3 linked regions of the Homo sapiens genome follow. The protein of the gene in region 2 interacts with the protein of the main gene of each other region in a pairwise test. Each region holds a gene or a part of one and is shown on either strand. Other genes may lie near its edges.

Region 1 (7,748 bases), on a different chromosome or scaffold from region 2:
TTTTTTAATTTTTAGTGCAGATGGGGTTTTGCCATGTTGGCCAGGCTGCTCTCGAACTCCTGACCTCAAGTGATCCACCCACCTCGGCCTCCCAAAATGCTGGGATTACAGGCGTGAGCCACTGCGCCCAGCCAAGACACAGTGGATTCAGAGGAACGGAGATAAATGGACAAGCTGAAGGAAGGCAGAGTCAGAGATAGGTATGAGGATGGGAAAGTTGAAGAAGTCAGAAAAACAGAACAGAAAAGAGAGACAATGACAGACAGACAGGAAAAAAGAGAGACAGACACAGAAGTACTGGATTCTACTGAATCCTCTGAGATAGGAATTATTAGTAGCCCATTTTAGAGATGGGCAAACTGAAGTTCATGGATGCTAAAGGACTTGCCCAATGTCACACAGCTTGTGAGCGGTATAAGCTGGAATGCAGGCCGGGCGCAGTGGCTCACGCCTGTAATCCCAGCACTTTGGGAGGCCAAGGCAGGTGGACCACCTGAGGTCAGGAGTTCGAGACCAGCCTGGCCAACATAGTGAAACCCCCGTCTCTACTAAAAATACAAAAAAAAAAAAAAAAAATTAGCGGGGCATGGTGGAGGGCCCCTGTAATCCCAGCTACTCAAGAGGCTGAGGCAGATAATTGCTTGAACCCGGGAGGCGGAGGCTGCAGTGAGCTGAGGTTGCCCCACTGCACTCCAGCCTGGGCGACAGAGCAAGACTCCATCTCAAAAACATAAATAAATAAATAAAATAAAATAAAGGCTGGGATGCAAACCTATGCCTGGCTACCTCTGTGGCTGCAATGTCCCCACACCGGAGGGAGGGCCAGACCCAGGGCCTGGTCCATGGAGGAGTCCCAGAAAGAATGGGACAGGCAGTGCAGAGGGAGGTTGGGGGGAAGCGGTCCCCCTGTGTCAACACCCTAGAGGGATGTCCAGGGCCCTGGCTGGGATGGGTGGCTCACCGGGGGTTAACCTGGCTGACGGGAATGTTGAGCCGGGCGGCGATGTCCTCCACAGTCTCGTTGCCCTCAGAGATGATGCCCACACCCTTGGCAATGGCCTTGGCCGTGATGGGGTGATCGCCGGTGACCATGATGACCTGCAGGCATTGTTTTTTAGGGATGGCCTCTCCCGCCCCACGCCTGGCTTTGCCTCCCCCAGCCACCCCAAGCCACACCTTGATGCCTGCGCTGCGACACTTGCCCACCGCGTCAGGGACGGCTGCCCGGGGTGGGTCGATCATGGACATGAGGCCCACAAAGCAGAGGTTGTCCGTGGTGAAGTTCACGTCATCACAGTCGAAGGCAAAGCCCTTGGGGAACTGCTCCTCGGGCAGGTAATAATGGCAGAAACCTAGTGGCAGGGAAGGGTTGGGGTGTGAGGGTCCCAGCCTCGGAACCTCCGCCCCATGCCCCTAGATGTCTGCATCGCCCGCATTCCATCTCCCCATCAGCAAGACGGCCAGTCAGCATTCATTTCCTAGGATACCTTCCCCTCTCATCCATCCATTCATTCATTCATTCATTCATTTACAGTATATTCTGGGAGGCCCTGGGCTGAGACAGGCTTTGGGCAGCATCACAACCCTCCTTGCCCTCCAGGGACCCCAGAGCCCGCCCGGCAGCCTCGCACCAAGCACGCGCTCGCCCAGGCCACCGAGCTCAAGGTAGGCATTCTGGAAGGCCTCCTTCATTTCCTCGTCCAGAGGCTGCTCCTTGCCCTGTAGCAGGATGGTGGAGCAGCGGTCCAGGATGCGCTCGGGGGCACCCTTCATCACCAGCAGGTATCGGTTGTCGTTGGGGTCCTCGGTCTCATGGATGGAGAGCTGGGGACCGATCAGAGGGTGGCGTGCCTGAGCCACGCAGACACCAGGAAGCTCCCTGCCCCATCCTGTCCCCTGTCCAGAGCCACGGGTGCCAGGATAGGCCCACACCAGGGCTCCCCCACACTCTCTCACAGAGACCTCTGCTCATTCCTGTCCGCTCTGTCTATGTCATGGATATATATTTCTTTTTCTTTTTCTTTTTTTCTTTTTTCTTTTTTTTTTGAGACAGAGTCTCGCTCTGTTGCCCAGGCTGGAGTGCAGTGGCACGATCTCAGCTCACTGCAACCTCCACCTCCTGGGTTCAAGCAATTCTCCTGCCTCAGCCTCCGGAGTAGCTTGGGATTACAGGCACCACCACCACACCCAGCTAACTTTTGTATTTTTAGTAGAGACGGGATTTTGCCATGTTGGCCAGGCTGGTCTTGAACTCCTGGCCTCAAGTGATCTGCCCTCATCGGCCTCTCAAAGTGCTGGGATAACAGGCATAAGCCACCACGTCTGTGCTCCCCTCCTCCCACCCTGTTTTTTTTTTTTAAGACAGGGTCTCACTCTGTCACCCAGGCTGGAGAACAGTGGCGAGATCACAGCTCACTGCAGCCTTGATCTCCCAGGCTCATGCGATCCTCCCGCTTCGGTCTCCCACGTAGCTGGGACCACAGGTCCACACCACCATGCCTGGCTAATTTTTTATAGAGACATGCTCTCCCTATGTTGCCCACGCTGGTCTCCATCTCCTGAGTTCAAGCGATCCTCCTGCCTCGGTCTCCCAAAGTGCTGGGATTACAGGCGTGAGCCACCACACCCAGCTGTATGCTTCCATTTTTATGAAATGTCCAGAATAGGCAAAACCATACGGACAGAAAGTAGGTTAGTGGTTGCTTAGGGCTGGGAGTGTCGGGGAGGAGGGGGCGGGTGACAGCTGAGAGATGTGGGGTTTCTTTTTGGAGGTGATGAAAATGCTCTAAAATTGACTATGTGGATGGCTGCCTATATCTGCGAATATACTAAAACTATTAAATTATACACTTAGAGGGACGAGCTATGGTATGTTAATTATATCTTAATAAAGTTATTTTAAAAGCTCTGAGTCAACTCCTGTCTCTCTTTGGCTGAGAGCCCCCTGGAGGCTTGTGTGCTCCTCAGAGTCACAGCCAAGTCCTCTCCATGCCCGTGGGGCCTGACAGGATCTGGCCAGCACCCACCACCCCCACCACGCTCCCTGGCTCCCAGCCCCTCTGCACTGGCTGGCTGGCTGGTGTTCAGATGCGTCAGCACACTCCCGCCTCTGGGCCTTTGCACAGGCTGTGCCTGCTACCGGAGCGCTCTTCCCCCAGACACCTGCAGGGTTCCCTCCCTCAGCACCACAACCACTACGATTACCTCCTCATGCCTTTGTTATTGTCTGTCTTCTAGAACCAGAGCGTAAGTCTCAGAGAGGGGTGACTTCACCATGTCACTCACTACTGTGTGTACACCCAGCACCCAAAACAGGGCCTAACATGTGGTGGCTGGTCAAAAAATGTATACTGAATGGGCCGGGCATGATGGCTTATGCCTGTAATCCCAGCACTTTGGGAGGCCGAGGTGGGTGGATCACTTGAGGTCAGGAGTTCAAGACCAGCCTGGCCAACATGATGAAACCCCATCAATACTAAAAATACAAAAACTAGCTGGGTGTGGTGGTGCACGCCTCTAATTCCAGCTACTCGGGAGGCTGAGATATGAGAATCACTTGAACCCAGAGACAGAGGTTGCAGTGAGCCAAGATCACACCACTGCCTTTTAGCCTGGGCGACAGAGCAAGACTCCATCTCAAAAAAAAGTTTACTGAGGCCGGGCGCGGTGGCTCATGCCTGTAATCCCAGCACTTTGGGAGGCTGAGGCGGGCAGATCACGAGGTCAGGAGATCGAGACCATCCTGGCTAACACGGTGAAACCCCGTCTCTACTAAAAATACAAAAAATTAGCTGGGCATGGTGGCGGGCGCCTGTAGTCCCAGCTATTCTGGAGGCTGAGGCAGGAGAATGGTGTGAACCCGGGAGGTGGAGCTTGCAGTGAGCTGAGATCGCGCCACTGCACTCCAGCCTGGGTGACAGAGCGAAACTCTGTCTCAAAAAAAAAAAAAGTTTGCTGAATAATTTAAAGTTGCTGCTCTGCCCCAAGAGGTCTCCTGCTTGTTCCCACTCTCTGCTGTAGGAAAACTTTTTTTTTTTTTTTGAGTCAGGGTCTTGCTCTGTCACCCAGGCTGGAGTACAGTGCGTGATGTAGGCTCTCTGCAGCCCCAACCTCCCCGGCTCAGGCAATCCTCCTGCCTCAGACTCCCAAATCGCTGAGACCACAGGCACATACCACCACACCTGGCTAATTAAAAAAAAAATTTCGTACAGATGGGGTTTTGCCATCTTGCCCAGGCTCGTCTCGAACTCCTGGCCTCAAGTGATCCCCCCACCTCAGCCTCCCAAAGTTCTGGTGTTAAAGGTGTGAGCCACCGCGCCTGGCCTGCAGGAAGATCTTTACTCCTCAGCGTCTCACTCCAACAGAGATCCGGCTCCCACTCTCAAGCTCTCCCTGTTCCTCTCCCCACCAGGCGGGTATTATCATTCCCATTTTACAGACGGGAAAATCAAGGCTCTATGACACCTCTTTACAGGCGTCATAAGGAACCTGAGGTCCAGGCTGGCTCTCCCGGAAAGCCCAGAGTACCTGGTATTTGTTGGTGGAATTGAAGGGAATCTCAGCCACTTTCTTGTTGCGTTCACGCATCAGCTTCACGGAGCCAGAGGACAGCTCGATGCACTTGAGCAGGGCAGACTCAGACGCATCCCCAGCCACATCCCTCTGCAAGGAGAAAGGGTTGTCAGAACAGGGACAGCTGAGGGGAGGACACAGGCAGGGCCGAGGTGAGGCCAGTAGCTGAACCCACCTTGAGCACAGGGATGTTGTCCTGACCACCCTTGAAGACAGCGCGATTGCAGAGCCCAGCGATGTGAGACAGGGCCACCCAGGTGTGCGAACTCTTGTCAAATGAGGTCCCTGGGGGAGGCATGTGTGAGGGCCAGGGACTCCTGGAGCCAGGCCCCCATGGTCCTCACCCGGGGCCTGCGCTCACCTGACTGGTCCTCAGTGGTGTCAGCCTCGTGGATCTGGTTGTCAAACCACATGTGGGCGACTGTCATGCGGTTCTGAGTGAGGGTCCCTGTCTTATCTGAGCAGATGGTGGACGTGGAGCCCAGGGTTTCTACAGCCTCCAGGTTCTTCACCAGGCAGTTCTTCCGGGCCATGCGCTTGGCGGTCAGCGTCAGACACACCTGGAGGACGAGCAAGGGCAGGCAAGTTACAGGGACAAGCCCGGCAGCAGGGTTGGATGAGCGACACGAGGGCCACAGCCCAGCTGCCCAGCCCCCAGAGAATCCTGAGGGCCTGGAAAAGAATGAGGCAGCACCCAGCAATGCCACCCCCAATTCAGACCAATAGAAACAGGGCAGAGACACCCAAAGACAGGGACTAGAATGCTCATAGCAGCCACATGCATAATAGTGCAAAACAGCCAGGTGCAGTGGCTCACGCCTGTAATCCCAGCACTTTGGGAGGCCGAGGTAGGCGCATCACTTGAGATCAGGAGTTCGAGACCAGCCTGGCTAACATGGTGAAACCCCATCCCTACTAAAAATACAGAAATTAGCAGGGCATGATGGTACACTCCTGTCATCCCAGCTACTTGGGAAGCTGAGGCACGAGAACCCCTTGAACCCAGGAGGTGGAGGTTGCAGTGATCCGAAATCGTGACACTGCACTCCAGCCTGGGCAACAGAGTGAGACTCCAACTCAAAAAAAAAAAAAATTGTCCAAAACTGCAAACTACTCAAATGTCCACTAACAGCAGAAAAGATAAATTGTGGACAATGGAATACTAACATTGATAAAAACAAATACATTACTGCTGCCTGCACCTGCATGGGTGAACGTCAAAAACATGTTCAGCCAAAAAGAGCCAGAAATGAGTTCATACTGAATTATTCCGTTAATAGGAAGTTTGAACACAGGCAAAGTTAATCTATGCTGTTAGCAGCCAGATCAGGGGTTACCCTTGGGTTGGGGGGCAGGGGCTAAATAAGGTCTTGAGGGGGCTTCAGGGAGACGCAGTCTCGTTGCAGCTGACGTGATTCTGTTCAGTTTGCCCCAAATCATCAGACTATGTGCTCACAATATGCTTAATCCTTTGCGTATAAAAATCCATTTGACATAGGGTAGCATTCAACATTGCTAATATGGAAAACAGTAAACTTTTTTTTTTTTTGAGACACAGTCTTGCTCTGTCGTCCAGGCTGGAGTGCAGTGGCTCGATCTCAGCTCACTGCAACCTCCACCTCCCAGGTTCAAGCAATTCTTGTGCCTCAGCCTCCCAAGTAGCTGGGATTACAGGCGCCCACCATCACGCCTGGCTAATTTTTGTATTTTTAGTAGAGATGGGGTTTTGCCATGTTGGCCAGGCTGGTCTTGAACTCCTGACCTCAAGTGATCCACCCACCTCGGATTCCCAAAGTGCTGGGATTACAGGCGTGAGCCACCCTGCCCGGCCCTAATATGGAAAACTTCACATAAAACATTAAGTCAAAGAATGAAAGAGGAGAATGGTATTTCTAAGATAGTCCCTGCCATGCACCTTGAAGACAGCATTTAGTCAATATGCTCACAGCTGTCAGGCGGAACCTCACAGAGAATGGACTTCTGGGGTGAAGCTGGCAGCAAAGCAGCCAGAGAAAAAATTTTTAAAAATAATAATAATAATTATTATTATTATAATAATTATTATTATTATTATTTTCTTGAGATGGAGTCTCCCTCTGTCACACAGGCTAGAGTGCAGTGGTTCAATCATGGCCCACTACAGCCTCAACCTCCCGGGTCAGCCTCCCAAATAGCTGGAACTACAGACATGTACCACCACGCCTGGCTAATTTAAAAAAATTTTTTTTTTTTTTTTTTTTTTTTTGAGACAGAATCTCGCTTTTGTCGCCCAGGCTGGAGTGAGGTGGCACGATCTCGGCTCACTGCAAGCTCTGCCTCCTAGGCTCAAGCTATTCTCCTGTCTCAGCCTCCTGAGTAGCTGGGATTCCAGGCACCCATCACCACGCCTGGCTAATTTTTATACTTTTAGTAGAGATGGGGTTTTGCCATGTTGGCCAGTCTGGTCTCGAACTCCTGACCTCAGGTGATCCACCCGCCTCGGCCTCCCAAAGTCTTGGGACTACAGGCATGAGCCACTGCGCCCAGCCTTCACATTTTTTGGTAGAGATGGGTTCTTACTATGTTGTCCAGGCTTGTCTCAAACTCCTGACCTCAAGCAGTCCTCCTGCCTCAGCCTCCCAAACTGTTGGGATTAAAGGCGTGAGCCACTGCGCCAGGCTTATTATTTTATTTTATTTATTTATTTATTTATTTTTGAGATGGAGTTTCACTCTTGTCACCCAGGCTGGAGTGCAATGGCGTGATCTTGGCTCACTGCAACCTCCGCCTCCCAGGTTCAAGCGATTCTCCTGCCTCAGCCTCCTGAGTAGCTGGGATTACAGGCATGTGCCACCACGCCCCACTAATTTTGTATTTTCAGTAGAGACAGGGTTTCACCATGTTGGCCAGGCTAGTCTTGAACTCCTGACCTCAGCTGATCTGCCCGCCTTGGCCCCCCAAAGTGCTGGGATTACAGCGTGAGCCAGTGCACCCAGCCTCATTATTTTATTTTTTAACTTGATGTACTCTTCAACTTTTCATCATGAGCGTGCACTTCTTAATTTTGCAATAGGATTGTTGGCTCTTTACGGCTTGCCAGTGTTTCTCAAGATTTTTGTTTGTTTCTTTCTTTGATTGTTTGCTTTGTTAATGAGGCCCTCTGAGTCAGGCCCAAGTTGTCTTTCACAAGAATACTG
Region 2 (8,584 bases):
GTCCAAACAATCTTCAAAAATAACACAGTTGGAAGACTTACACTACGTGACATCAAGATTTACCATGGGCCGGGCACGGCGGCTCACGCCTGTAACCCCAGCATTTTGGAAGGCAAAGGCGGGAGGACAACGTGAGCTCAGGAGTTTGAGACCAGCCTGGGGAACATACTGATAATCCATCTCTATTTTTTATTTGTATTTTTTTAAAAAAAAGATTTACCATAAAGATACAAGATGATAAGTCAAGATGATGTGGTATTGATCAAAGGATAGACAGAACAACAGAACAAAACAGAGTCCAGAAATAGATTGACAAACACATAGTTAACTCATTTTCTACAAAAATACCAAGTCAGGCTGGGTATGGTGGCTCATGCCTGTAATCCCAATGCTTTGGGAGGCCAAGGTAGGAGGATCACTTGAGCCCAGAGATTTGAGACCCGCTTGGGCAAAACAGTGAGACCCTGTCTCAAAAAAAGAAAAGAAAAGAAAAGAAAATCAGAAATGACCAGCTGTGGTGACTCACGCCTGTAATCCCAGCACTTTGGGAGGCTGAGGCAGGTGGATCACTTGAGGTCAGGAGTTTGAGACCAGCCTGGCCAAAATGGTGAAGCCCCATCTCTACTAAAAATACAAAAAAAAAAAAAATTAGCCAGGTATGGTGGCACGCACCTGTAGTGCCAGCTACTCAGGAGGCTGAGGCAGAAGAACCACTTGAACCTGGGAAGTGGAGGTTGCAGTGAGCCGAGATCGTACCACTGCACTCCAGCCTGGGCCACAGAGTGAAACTCCATCCCAAAAAAATTTTTAAAAATCGTAATGAAAAGTACCAAGTCAAGTCAATGGGAAAAGGAATGTCTTTTCAATGGAAGTTCCTGGAAAAACTGGAAATCGATTTGGGAAAAAATAAATGTGACTCCTATATGTGACTTTATTCACAAAATCAATTTGAGGTAGGCCAGGTGCGGTGGCTCACACCTATAATCCCAGCACTCTGGGAGGCCGAGGCGGGCGGATCACTTGAGGTCAGGAGTTCAAGCCCAGCCTGGCCAACGTGGTAAAACCCTGCCTCTACTAAAAATACAAAATTAGCCTGGCATGTTTGTGCATGCCTGTAATCCCAGCTACTTGGGGGCTGAGGCAGGAGAATTGCTTAAATCCGGGAGGCAGAGGTTGCAGTGAGCTGAGATCACGCCACTGCACTCCAGCCTGGGCGACAAGAGCGAAACTCCATCTCAAAAAATAATAATAAATTTGAAGTAGATCATGAACCTAACCTAAAACCAGAACTATAAAGCTTCTAGAAGATAGCATAGCACACTGTCTTTGCAATATGGGGCAGGCAAAGCATCCTTGGACACAATACAAAAAGAAAAAACTGATCAAATGAATTGAAAATTGAAAAAAATTATTTATCAGAATTTCAAATTTCTGCTTATCCAAAGACACCACATTCAGAAAATGGATAAGTTACAGACCTGGAAAAAAAATCTTTGCAGTCATAAAGCTGACAAAACACTTATATTCAAGTTGTGCAAAGACATCAACAACAAACAACAAATCAACAATAAACAACCACATTACAGAATGGCCAAAAGACTTCAAAAGACACTTAAAGATATACAAATGACAGGCCGGGCGCAGTGGCTCACACCTGTAAACTCAGCACTTTGGGAGGCCGAGGCGGGTGGATCACCTGAGGTCAGGAATTTGAGAGCAGCCTGGCCAATATGGTGAAACCCCGTCTCTACTAAAAATACAAAAATTAGCCAGGTGTGGTGGTGCATGCCTGTAATCCCAACTACTCAGGAGGCTGAGGGAGGAGAATTGCTTGAACCCAGAAGGCAGAGGCTGCATCGAGTGGAGATTGTGCCACTGCATGGAAGCCCAGACCACACAGCAAGACTCCATCTCAAAAAAAAAAAATATATATATATATATACATATATATATATATATACACAAATGACCAGAAAGCACTTTCAAGAGTTCTTGACTTCGTTAATCACCAAGGGAATTCAATTCAAAACCACAGAGAAATACAACTTCTTACCCACTAGAGTGGCTAAAATCAAAGGCTGATTTTTCAATGGGTAATGGGGACTACTAGAGGGAGGAGGGGCTGGAAGATGTGGACTGAGAAACTACTGTTGGGTGTTGTACTCACCACCTGGGTGACGGGATCACCCATACCCCAAACCTCAATGTACTCATGTACATTGTACTCATGAGTCATGTACCATCACTCAGTGTACTCATGTAACAAACTTGCACATGTACCCCCCGAATCTAAAATAAAAGTTGAAATTAAATAAAAGATAAAATACCATTCCATATCTTTTTAAAAAGACACATTTGGTTATCTACTGTTGCATAACACATCACTCCAAACCTTCGTAACTTAAATAACTACAACCATTGTATTTTCTCTCACAGCTTCTTTGGGTCAGGAATTCAGGAAAGGCTTGTCTGCTTGGGGCTGGCCTGGGGTCTCTCCTGCTGCTGCTGCAGGACGATAGCTGGATGGGAAAAGTGGGGGCTGGAGGAGCTGAGGCATCTTTCTCTCCATACATCTTAGAGGCTCTCCACGTGGACTAGGTGGGGATTTATCAAGGTGTGACAGCCTTGGGGTCCTCAGACTTCTCAATGGGAGGCTCAGGACTCTACAGCAAGCACGTCATGGGCTAAGAAGATGGATGGATGCTGCATTCCCTTTAGGACCTAGCCTGAGAAGTCACACAGAGGCACTTCTGCCACATACTATTGGTTACAAGCGAGTCAACAAACCCCTTAAATTGAAGGAGAGCGGAATGAGACTCTGCGTCTTGCCATGGGAATGGCAAGATTCTTGAAGAGTATGTGGGACAAGAGATATTACTGCAGCCAGTTTTATTTTATCATTTTATTTTATTTTGAGATGGAGTCTTGCTCTGTCACCCAGGCTGGAGCACAGCAGTTTTATTTTATTTTATCATTTTATTTTATTTTGAGATGGAGCCTTGCCCTGTCACCCAGGCTGGAGTGCAGTGATGCAATTTCAGCTCACTGCAACCTCTACCTCCTGGGTTCAAGTGATTCTCCTGCCTCAGCCTCTCAAATAGCTGGGATTACATGCACCCACCACCATGCCCAGCTAATTTTTGTATTTTTAGTAGAGACGGGGTTTCTCCATGTTGGCCAGGCTGGTCTCAAACTCCTGACCTCAAGTGATCCACCCACCTCGGCCTCCCAAAGTGCTGGGATTACAGGCGTGAGCCACCATGCCCAGCCTCTGCAGCCATTTTCAGATAATACAATCTGTGGAGGGTAAACCTAGAAAGAAAAGCAGGTGATGCATCATACCAGGCCTTGTAAGCCACACTTTGTTATTTTTTTTTTTAAGACACAGAGGCCGGGCGTGGTGGCTCAAGCCTGTAGTCCCAGCACTTTGGGAGGCCGAGGTAGGCGGATCACAAGGTCAGGTGTTCGAGACCAGCCTGGCCAATATGGTGACACCCCGTCTCTACTAAAAATACAAAAAATAAAAAATAAAAAATCAGCCAGGCGTGGTGGCACGCACCTGTAGTCCTAGCTACTAGGGAGGCTGAGGCAGAAGAATCACTTGAACCTGAGAGGCAGAGGTTGCAGTGAGTCACGTTCACGCCACTGCATTCCAGCCTGGGCAACAGAGGAAGGCTCTGTCTCCCAAAAAAAAAAAAAGAGAGAGAAAGTCTTGCTTTGTTACCCAGGCTGGACAGCAGTGGTGCGATCTCGGCTCACTGCAGGCTCAAGTTCCTCCACAAGTGCCCCTCAGCGCAGCTGGTTAATTTTTTGTAGAGATGGGGTCTCACTACGTTGCCCAGAATGGGCTCAAGCGATCCACCCACCTTGACCTCCCAAAGTGTTGGGACTACGGGTGTCAGCCCTGCACAGAGCCCCACAAGAGTTTAGATCTTGATGTAAATTGTGATGAGGAAGCAATGGAGGACTTTTTGGCTTTTTATGTTTTGTTTTTCATCACTGGAGACTTTTAGCAAGAGAGTGAACGGTTTGGTTGTTTTTAAAAGTTTGTTCTAGCAGCTGTGCGGAAAAAGAGTTCGTGGGGAAGGTTTGAAAGCAGAGACCATTCAGGAGAGGACCCAGAAGTCCCAGTGCCAGACACGGCAGTCGGCCCCAGCCTGGGTAAGGGACAAGGGAGAGGGTAGGGGACACGGAAGCCCACCAGGTTTCCAGCCAGTCCAGCGGTTTTGTTCACTAAAGTGGAAAACCATGAAGAAGTAAGTTTGTTTTGGACACATTGGCTTTGAGAGTCCAGGGTAGATGTACGAGGCTGAAACTCAGGCAATAAAAATTGAGGGGAGAATACACAGCATTTAAAAAGGTACAGGAGGCCGAGCACGGAGGCTCATGCCTGTGATCCCAGCGATCTAGGAGGCCGAGGCGGGAAGATCGATGGAGCCCAGGAGTTCGAGACCAGCCTGAAACCAAAAATCAAAACTCTTAGCCAGGCGTGGGGATGGGAGGCCAAGGCAGGAGGATCGAGGCACGGGACTGGACGAGATGAGTGTCAGCCCAGGGATTTAAAATCTCTCTGCCCACCCTCCCCTTCCTGCGGTCAACTGTCCAGATTCCAACAGACAAAAGCAAGCATGGGCGAACCACCGTGCGCCGCGGTCCCCGACAGAAGCACGCATGCGCACACCTCTGTGTGCGGAGGTTTCCGACAGACGCACGCATGCGCACACTTCTATGCGCGGAGGTCTCCGCAGACAGAAGCACGCATGCGCACATCGCTGTGCCGGTATCGCCAACAGATGGAAGCACGCATGCGCGCACCGCTGCGTACCTAGCACTCCGACAGATGTACGCATGCGCACAACGCTCTGTTCTCGAGATCCCCGACAGAAGCACACATGCGCACACCGCTGTGTGCCAAGGTCGCCAAAAGACGGAAGCACGCATGCGCACACCGCGGTCCGTGGGGCACCGGGCGGAAGCGTCCTGACTGCGCAGGCGCAGCAGGGGTGGTCGCCATGGAGACGCGTGGCCCTGGCCTGGCGGTCCGCGCTGAGAGTCGCCGATTAGTCGGCATCGGGCCTCGGGCGCCCCCGGGGCGGGTTGGGTTGCAGCCCAGCGGGCGGCTGGACCGCCGCGGTGGGGCGGGGACAATGGGGTACAAGGACAACGACGGCGAGGAGGAGGAGCGGGAGGGCGGCGCCGCGGGCCCGCGGGGGTCTAGACTGCCCCCCATCACAGGCGGCGCCTCCGAGCTGGCCAAACGGAAGGTGAAGAAGAAAAAAAGGAAGAAGAAGACCAAGGGGTCTGGCAAGGGGGACGGTAAGAGGAGCAGCTAGCCCGGCTGCGTCAGCTCCGGTTCCCTGGAGACTCTTTGGGGACCCACCCCCCATTTACCCTTCAGACCGGAAACAGAAGCTCAGTGGTCCCGGACCGAGGTCCTCCTGCTCCCCACACATGCCCGTCAGCAGCACGTTGATGCCCCAGCCCCACCCGTGGAGACCATCCACCAACTCTGCGGTCCCTTAGCCCCACACAGAGACCCCTACAGATATCCACCATTCCTAAGAGCCTTCCAGCCCCACACAAAGACACCCTCTCAACTTCCTAATCCCTCAGCCAAAACTGGCAGTCTTAAACGTCTGCGCCTTCCCCACAGAGGCCCTCCTCACAAGACACTTTCCCCACCCCAAACACATTGATGCCACATGAAAGGCCCTCACTCTCATGCACAGAGAAGGGCAGACTCCTGCCTCCCCTCCTCCCACCCTCTTGCGTTAAGGCTGCCTGCCTGTGGATGCGCGGTAGACACCCACACCCACAGACGTGTGTATTAAAGGTCCTCGCTGCATGGGCTCCCCCTCGCACCCACCAAGGGGCAGCCTTGGACTGCACAAACCCCATGACACCAGTCACTGTGACATCCTCCTATAATCCCTGACACCCTCAACCACTCCCCGCTTCATATCAGTGTAACACCCACAGTGAAACTAAAGGGCGGGGGACACCCTCAACCACTCCCCCCACCTTCTATCAATGTAACACCAACAGTGAAACTAAAGGGCGGGACGCAGTGGCTCACACCTGTAATCCGAGCACTTTGGGAGGCCGAGGTGGGAGGATCACTTGAACCCAGGACTTCCAGGCTGCAGTGAGCTATGATCGCACCATTGCACTCCAGCCTGGGCAACAAGCAAGACCCTGTCTCTCAAAAAAACAAACAAGAAAACTAAAGCACAGATCCCCCTCATGCACACACATTCCTAGTCTACACACACAGACTGTTAATACGTTATCCATTCGCGTGTGTAGTCATATGCAGGCAGGAATTGCAGTCTCTCTCAGGGACACCTTCACAAACACACATACCCTACCTGCCATAAACCCCAGTCCCTACATCTCACCAAGCTCTTCTTGTAGAACCCCTACATTTCTTGACAAGGGGACTGAGCACCCACTTTGAGGAGAGAGAGCACAGCAGTGACAGAGAATGCAGGTGCCCGTGAGTGCTGTGAGGCCACTGTCGCCCGTGTGGTCCACCTCAGTGGCTTTGGCTGTCTGGGAGAGGGCTCTAAGCTCCAGTTCTGGGGCCTGGCCCTCTGTGGCAGAGCTGGCACCAAGGCAAGCAGGAGGCAGAGTGGCAGCCTCGCCCATATGGACCGTGCAGTGTGGGAAGGGAGCAATGGGAAGATGATAAGTACTTCTCAGGCGTAATACAAAGGCAAGAAAATTCTGCAGTTCAGGTCAAGAAGCCCTGTGTGGCTGGGCACATGGCTCACGCCTGTAATCCCAGCACTTTGGGAATTCAAGACCAGCCTGGCCAACATGGTGAAACCCCGTCTCTACTGAAAATACAAAAATTAGCTGGGCATGGTGGCAGGCACCTAGAATTGCTTGAACCTGAGAGGCGGAGGTTGCAGTGAGCCAAGATTGTGCCACTGTGCTCCAGCCTGGGTGGCAGAGTGAGACTCAGTCTCAAAAAAAAAAAAAGCCCTGTGTGTATCTGCAAAAAGAAATTTGGCAGTTCATTGTCCTTTTGGCGTAGCTTTTCACTGTAGAAATTACAGTGACATGTGCCTCATACCATCAGCAGGGGGCACCAGATAGTTTCCAGGGCGTAGCAAGGGAGGGAAATGTCAAAAGATGATTTCTTTCTCTCTCCCCTAAAATAAAAGGACGAGCTGATGAAAGAACCACAATTTGTAGCATTTTATGTGCATGTTAAATAATTCTGAAGTGCTATTGATGTTAAAAAAAAAAATCAGTACAAGCCATACAGCAGAAGTATTTCTGGCTTGGCATAATACTGCTTTCAGTCAAATTTAGGAAGCTTTTCTGTTGTTTTCCGTTCCTTCCATCATAAAGTGTCTAGACTAGGGTAGAGTCACAGACTCCCAGAACTGGGAATGGCCGTGGTGAGCACATGGCGAGGATGGATGAGGGCAGCACGGCCCAGTGGAAAGAATGGGGCATTGGGGGCCCAGCCTGCACTCAGGTCCCAGCTCTGCCACTCGCTCATGACATTGGCAAGTTCCTGAACCTTTTGGAGCTTCGGTTTCCTCACCCGAAGAATAGGGCCGATCGCCTTTACCCAGACGGCCTGGCTCAGACTGTGTGCTCAATGAATGGTTCCTCCTGCCCTGAAATGATTTCAGCAAAATCACACAGGCAGGTGGGCACGAGGCTGGTGGGCTTGGCAGCCTGAGCCCTGGGTACGGAGGGGCCCCCATCCTCCTCTTCCATCTTGGGTGATTTTGGCACCATCCCCAGCAGGCCAAGGTCAGACATTGCCACAAACACTAACCTGCTCATCTACTCAGCAGATAAACATCAGAGTCAGAGCCTGAAGAGCCAGCCGCTTTCTTCCTCCTTTCATGACATCTTAAGTCCTTGCAAAGAGCGTGGCCCGAAACCAGAGCACAGACAGAGCAAAGTGGAAAAGAAGCACCTCCCTTCTGACTCCTCCACCGTCAGCCTCCCCGACTTTGCCGAAATAGAGAACCTTGCGAATCGGATCAACGAAAGTCTGCGTTGGGATGGAATTCTTGCTGACCCGGAGGCAGAGAAGGAAAGGATTCGCATCTATAAACTGAATCGGAGAAAACGGTACCGGTGCTTGGCCCTCAAGGGCTTCCACCCCGACCCCGAGGCCCTCAAGGGCTTCCACCCCGACCCCGACGCCCTCAAGGGCTTCCACCCCGACCCCGAGGCCCTCAAGGGCTTCCACCCCGACCCCGAGGCCCTCAAGGGCATCCACCCCGACCCCGAGGCTCTCAAGGGCTTCCACCCCGACCCCGAGGCCCTCAAGGGCTTCCACCCCGACCCTGAGGCCCTCAAGGGTTTCCACACTGACCCCGAGGCCCTCAAGGGTTTCCACATTGACCCCGAGGCCCTCAAGGGCTTCCACCCCGACCCCAAGGCCCTCAAGGGCTTCCACCCCGACCCCAAGGCCCTCAAGGGTTTCCACACTGACCCCGAGGCCCTCAAGGGCTTCCACCCCGACCCCAAGGCCCTCAAGGGCTTCCACCCCGACCCCGAGGCCCTCAAGGGCTTCCACCCCGACCCCGAGGCCCTCAAGGGCTTCCACCCC
Region 3 (6,694 bases), about 64 Mb from region 2:
GCAGTGGCGCAATCTTGGCTCACTGCAAGCTCCGCCTCCCGGGTTCACGCCATTCTCCTGCCTCAGCCTCCCGAGTGGCTGGGACTACAGGCACACGCCACCACGCCCGGCTAATTTTTGTATTTTTCAGTAGAGACAAGGTTTCACTATGTTGGCCAGGCTGGTCTTGAACTCCTGACCTCATGATCCACCCGCCTCGGCCTCCCAAAGTGTTGGGATTACAGGCGTGAGCCACTGCGCCCGCCCGGCAAATTCACCATTTTCCAGTGTATACTTAACCATTTTAAAGTGTATAATTCAGTTGCATTAGGTCCGTTCACATTGCTGTGCAACCACCACCACTATCCATCTCCAGAGCTTTTTCTTTTTAAGTGAAAGCAAGTTTATTAGAGAAGTAAAGAAACAAAAGAATGGCTACTCCATAGGCAGAGCAGCCACTGAAACACTGTACCCATTAAACACTAACTCCCCATTGCCCCTCCAGCAACCCCTAGCAACCACTGTCTACTTTCTGTCTCTATGAATTTGACTATTTGAGGTACATCACATAAGTGGAATCATATATTTGTCCTTTCATGTCTGCCTTATTTCATTTAGCATAACGTTTTCAAGGTTTTCCTGTGTTGAAAATATATCAGAATTTCATTCTCTTTTTAAGGTAGAATCATATCATTTTAAAACATTTCAGTTGGACCATCTAAGTTCAGTCCTTCATTTTCAAAATTAAAAAACAGGCCTCAAACGGGTACATCTCACGTTAGCTAGAGACAGAACTGGAGCTAGAAGTCAGATCTCTTACAAAGTTGCCTTTCTTCTTCTGTGGGTAAGTGGGGCACCCTTGGGACGCTGTGCTGGGCGTACATGGGTGCTTGATGAAGTTACTTGGTGGACTGATGTGATTGATGTCCAACATGTATGCAGGGACAGAGGCTATGGTCCCTACAGAGCAGGCATGGAGAGAAGGAGAAATACATACGGGCAGGAGCCAGGAGAGGGAGGGTGTAGTGAGCAGAGACCGCGCCACTGCACTCCAGCCTGAGTGACAGAGTGAGAATCCATCTAAAAAAAATTGCTTGCTAAAGAAGTGGTCTCCTGAGGTCTTAAGACGTTCCTGACAATGTCTTGAGTGGGTGGGAGAGAGGCTGCAGTCATTGTGCTGTGGAATTTCAGAGGTGAGAACCACACCTAACCAAAATTACTTTCCCTGTTTGCCTCAGTGACACAGCTGCAGGAACCCTGGTGGGTGTTGTATTAAGTAAATTTGACCTTTATTCTTTGCAGATCTGTGAAATGTTGTCTTCTGAGGGGCCACGTGTATCTGTAGTGCTGAGGACTCCTTGGGCCTCTGAAGTCACAGAGAGAACCCTGCAGGGTGGGGGACCAGTGTGTGACAGCCCTGCTTTGCATTTTCTTTGAGAAGTGCTGTCATTTTGCATTTCTCTCCACCAGGGCAATCTTCAATCTTGAGAGGTGTGATCATAACTTGCCTTGTTTCTTGTCGCTACAGAGAACGGAAGGCTCCCTTGATGGAACTTAGACAGCAAGGCCAGATGCACATCCCTGGAAGGACATCCATGTTCCGAGAAGAACAGATAATCCCTGTATTTCAAGACCTCTGTGCACTTATTTATGAACCTGCCCTGCTCCCACAGAACACAGCAATTCCTCAGGCTAAGCTGCCGGTTCTTAAATCCATCCTGCTAAGTTAATGTTGGGTAGAAAGAGATACAGAGGGGCTGTTGAATTTCCCACATACCCTCCTTCCACCAAGTTGGAACATCCTTGGAAATTGGAAGAGCACAAGAGGAGATCCAGGGCAAGGCCATTGGGATATTCTGAAACTTGAATATTTTGTTTTGTGCAGAGATAAAGACCTTTTCCATGCACCCTCATACACAGAAACCAATTTTCTTTTTTATACTCAATCATTTCTAGCGCATGGCCTGGTTAGAGGCTGGTTTTTTCTCTTTTCCTTTGGTCCTTCAAAGGCTTGTAGTTTTGGCTAGTCCTTGTTCTTTGGAAATACACAGTGCTGACCAGACAGCCTCCCCCTGTCCCCTCTATGACCTCGCCCTCCACAAATGGGAAAACCAGACTACTTGGGAGCACCGCCTGTGAAATACCAACCTGAAGACACCGTTCATTCAGGCAACGCACAAAACAGAAAATGAAGGTGGAACAAGCACAGATGTTCTTCAACTGTTTTTGTCTACACTCTTTCTCTTTTCCTCTACCATGCTGAAGGCTGAAAGACAGGAAGATGGTGCCATCAGCAAATATTATTCTTAATTGAAAACTTGAAATGTGTATGTTTCTTACTAATTTTTAAAAATGTATTCCTTGCCAGGGCAGGCAAGGTGGCTCACGCCTGTAATCCCAGCACTTCAGGAGGCTGAGGTGGGCGGATCACCTGAGGTCAGGAGTTTGAGACCAGCCTGATGAAACCCTGTCTCTACTAAAAATACAAGAATTAGCCGGGCGTGGTGGCGCATGCCTGTAGTATCAGCTACTCAAGAGGCTGAGGTGAGATTATCGCTTGAACCCAGGAAACGGAGGTTGTAGTGAGCGGAGATCGCGCCACTGCACTCCAGCCTGAGTGACAGAGTGAGAATCCATCTCAAAAAAAACAAAAAACAAAATTGCTTGCTAAAGAAGTGGTCTCCTGAGGTCTTAAGACATTCCTGACAGTGTCTTGAGTGGGTGGGAGAGAGGCTGCTGTCATTGCGCTGTGGAATTTCACAGATGAGAACCACGCCTAGCCAAAATCACTTTTCCTGTTTGCCTCAGTGACACAGCTGCAGGGACCCTCGTGGATGTTGTATTAAATAAATTTGACCTTTGCTCTTTGCAGATCTGTGAAATGTTGTCTTCTGAGGGGCCACATGCATCTATAGTGCTGAGGACTCCTTGGGCCTCTGAAGTCACAGAGAGAACCGAGCAGGTCTATGTTTTTGTTTTGTTGTTTTGAGACGGAGATTCGCTCTTGTTGCCCGGGCTGGACTGCAGCGGCGCAACCTCTGCTCACTGCAACCTCCGCCTCCTGGGTTCAAGCAGTTCTCCTGTCTCAGCCTCCCGAGTAGCTGGGATTACAGGCACATGTCACCACGCCTGGCTAATTTTTGTATTTTTAGTAGAGATGGGGTTTCACCACGTTGGCCAGGCTGATCTCGAATGCCTGACCTTTGGTGATCTGCCCGCCTTGTCCTCATGTGTGCTCCACAGGCCTTTGGGTTGGGATTGCAGGCGTGAGCCACCATGCCCAGCCTAGACTCTTTTGACAATATGATGAAAGCTGTTGGTTCCTTTCCCCAACACACACACACCGAGTTGTATCACGAAAATGTCATACAATTTCCAGGTTTTCTGAGTGGTGGGCTCAGATTGAGGTCAAAGGATCAGACGACCTCTAACGACCTTCATGTCTCTGTTGATGATCTGGGGACAGCCAGATCCCCTGTGTCCAGGGAGTTCCTTAGTCCCTTGCCACCACCAGAGAAGGGCAATTGCCACGGGAGCTGCAAAGACCCTATTCCTACTCCTGGTGCCTTACTTATGCAGCACGACTGAATTTTTTGTTTTGTTTTGTTTTGTTGAGACAGGGGCTTGCTCTGTTGCCCAGGCTGGAGTGCAGTGGCACAACAATGGCTCACCGCAGCCTCGAACCCCTGGGCTCAAGCGATCCTCCCATCTCAGCTTCCTGGGTAGCTGGGACCAGAGGCGTGAGCCGCCATAGCTGGCTAATTTTTAATTTTTTTTTTGCAGAGATGAGGTTTCACCATGGTGCCCAGGCTGGTCTCGAACTTCTGGGCTCAAGTGATCCTCCCTCCTTGGCCTCGCAAAGTGCTGGGATTGCAGGCATGAGCCACCGCCCCCGGCCTGTGGAGCACACATGAGTTTAAAATTACTTTCCCTTCTGCCTATATTTCCGAGGAGGAAACTTCATGCGCAGGGATCTTTCTTAGTGGATTTAATGGCTAAAAGGTCTGTCTGAATCCAGGACGCTGGCTTTAGCCTTCCTCGGCAGCTGCCGTAACCCCGGTGTCTAAACCTGAAGCATCCCAGGAGCACCCACTCCAGGAGTTTTCTCGGCCGCGGAACTCATTAGTTAGAGCGCCCTCTTGTGTTCTCATGTGGTAATCGGTCACTGAAGGACTTAAAATGGTCCTTAGCCAACACACAGTAAAACTTTTCCCTCTTCTGACCCCAAGAGGTCAGCCACCCATTTCATGAGCATATACTGGTCGCCCCATCAGCGTTCTCTGATTGGCTAACTGAACCCACTCCCCGACCTAGACTCAAGACAGGCGAAGTGACGCTTAGGTCAACATTCACTCACTAAAGCAACGACTGTCGGGCGATTTTGTCTCCCGCTGGTTTTGGAATGGTGTCTGGAGACATTTTTGGTTGTCACAGCTGGGTGGGTGTGCTCCCGGCATCTGGTGGGTAGAAACCAAGCATGCTCCTAAACATCCTACAGGCACAGAACCGTCTCCCACGACCAAGCATGATCAAGTCCCAAATGCCAATAATGGCCAGGTTGAGAAACTCTGCACAGAAGCATCCAGTTATTTGTCTGTTTGCTCAACAAGCTTGTGCTCATCATGCTCTGTGTTCCTGACGCTGTGCTGGGTGTTGGCGGTGGGAAGATTACAAGAGTCACATGGCAGCTGTCCTCCTGGAAGGTACAACCCAGTAGAGATGCAGACTAACAGAGAGCCAATTACAAAGCAGTGTGACAAGCGTCATGGTGGAAAATTAAAAGCTCAAACAAGGGCACATGGGAGGGGCTTCCAACACAGACTTTGGGGGATCCAGGAAGGTCTAAGAGGAAAGTGGGTCTCACCAAAGCCTTGACCATAGGCAGAGGGTACCAGTGGAAAAGGTGGGGTGAAGAACATTGAGGACAAAAGGAAGAAGTGCAGGAAGGCCCTGAGGCAAGGGAGTGGGGGGTGCCCTGGAGGGATGGCAGCAGGGCAGTCTGTCAGACCCAAGTGGCCTCCAGCCCTAGAAGCCAATTAGTCCTCCTCAAAAAGCTGTCACTGTCCCCTAAGAATTGCTGCCAGGCTCCCACTGGCCTGACTCAGTCTTTGAGAGTCTTAAGGAGGAGGTCTCTGAAAGGTACACACCAAGAACTCTCCCCAGCACAGCTGTTTTTAAGACTCTCCACCAGCGTCATTGGCGTGTTGGGAAGAAACCCTCTGCCACAGAGGCCAGCTTCAGCCTTTGCCTAACACCGCAAGGGCAAATGGAAAGGTAAACGGGAAGGAGATGTCTCCCCAGCAGGCTATTTGAGGACAGTCTTCCCTGCAGAAGATCTCAACCTGGGGTCCACAGAGTGGAAATGTTAGAGTAGGGAGCTAGGCAAACATGAGCAGGACAGGTGAGGGCCCCCACAGGAATGTCAGGCTACCATCAGGTGATGGTCAGGTGGTTGTTAAACTGTCTCTGTAAAATAATAATTGGTTGCAGCCAGCTCCAAGCAAGGACAGTCTCTCAATAGATACAAAACACCCTGATCTGGTGATCAGCCGCTTCCCGATAAGATCTCAGGAGCTGGGCAAGCAGCCTGGAGCATGCGCACCAAGAGGCAAAATGGCGGAATTTAACCAGTATATGACCTACCTTCCTCTGGGAACGCACGACTGGTAAGGGGAAAAATGCCTCAAGTGAGCATGCGCGCAACTTCAGTAATCACACTGTGCATGCGACCCCTTCCAAGTGCTGGCAGGTCACCACATACGCGGACAGCCTGCTGCAAGGGAAGAATCAGGGGAGATGAGACGTAAATCCCAGAACTATGCCAAATACATAAAACCCCAAGTTAAGGGTCAGGCAGGGCACTTAGATCTCTCAAGTTGCCTGCCTGACCCAAGTGTAGTGTACTTCCTTTTGTTCCTGCTCTAAAACTTTTTAATAAACTCTCACTCCTGCTCTAAAACTTGCCTTGGTCTCTCCCTGTGCCTTAAAACCACTTAAAACCACCTCTGCCCCTCAGCTGAGTTCTGTCTTTGAGAAGGCAAGCATCAAGTTTGCTGCAGACCCATTGGATTCACCACTGGTAACAGAAGTTGGGGTAAGGCGTGGGGCCTGAGAATTCTCTAAGAGTAGGTGCAGCCGGGCGCGGTGGCTCACGCCTGTAACCCCAGCACTTTGAGAGGCTGAGGTGGGTGGATCAGCTGAGGTCAGGAGTTCGAGACCAGCCTCAATATGGGGAAACCCCATCTCTACTAAAAATACAAAATCAGCCGGGCGTAGTGGTGCATGCCTGTAATCTCAGCTACTCGGGAGGCTGAGGCAGGAGAATTGCTTGAACCTGGGAGGCAGAGGTTGTGGTGAGCCAAGATCGAGCCATTGCACTCCAGCCTGGGCAACAAGAGCGAAACTCTGTCTCAAAAAAAAAAAAGAGTAGGTGCAAAAGGTTATGAGGGTGTGCAGTTTTCTATGGGAGAGAATCCATAGCTTTTATCCATGTCTTTGTTTGTTTTGAGATAAAGAGTCTTGCTCTGTCACGCAGGCTGGAGTGCACTGGTGTGAACATGGCTCACTGCAGCCTTGACCTCCCGGGCTCAAGCAATCCTCCTGTCTCAGCTTCCCAAAGCTGGGACCACAGGTGCCCACGACCACACCCAGCTAATTTTTAATTTTTTTGTAGAGATGAGGGTGTTACTATGTTGCCCAGGCTGGTCACAAACTC

The links. Proteins that work in one complex are often made in the same cells at the same time.
Region 1: the proteins of LIAT1 (region 2) and ATP1A3 interact in binary tests that used the Homo sapiens proteins (3 or more experiments, as listed by UniProt).
Region 3: the proteins of LIAT1 (region 2) and PECAM1 interact in binary tests that used the Homo sapiens proteins (3 or more experiments, as listed by UniProt).

Annotation. Positions count from the first base shown.
Region 1 is NC_000019.10:41,976,975-41,984,722, forward strand, and holds part of ATP1A3 (sodium/potassium-transporting ATPase subunit alpha-3), read right to left. Parts: intron 5,133-7,748; coding exon 4,934-5,132; intron 4,858-4,933; coding exon 4,748-4,857; intron 4,663-4,747; coding exon 4,528-4,662; intron 1,825-4,527; coding exon 1,632-1,824; intron 1,353-1,631; coding exon 1,177-1,352; intron 1,099-1,176; coding exon 962-1,098; intron 1-961. UniProt on the Homo sapiens protein: This is the catalytic component of the active enzyme, which catalyzes the hydrolysis of ATP coupled with the exchange of sodium and potassium ions across the plasma membrane.
Region 2 is NC_000017.11:405,331-413,914, forward strand, and holds the start of LIAT1 (protein LIAT1), read left to right. Parts: upstream 1-4,994; 5' UTR 4,995-5,012; coding exon 5,013-5,316; intron 5,317-7,798; exon of another isoform or gene 7,799-7,817; coding exon 7,818-8,584. UniProt on the Homo sapiens protein: Participates in nucleolar liquid-liquid phase separation (LLPS) through its N-terminal intrinsically disordered region (IDR). May be involved in ATE1-mediated N-terminal arginylation.
Region 3 is NC_000017.11:64,318,659-64,325,352, reverse strand, and holds the end of PECAM1 (platelet endothelial cell adhesion molecule precursor), read left to right. Parts: intron 1-1,507; coding exon 1,508-1,537; 3' UTR 1,538-5,938; downstream 5,939-6,694. UniProt on the Homo sapiens protein: Cell adhesion molecule which is required for leukocyte transendothelial migration (TEM) under most inflammatory conditions.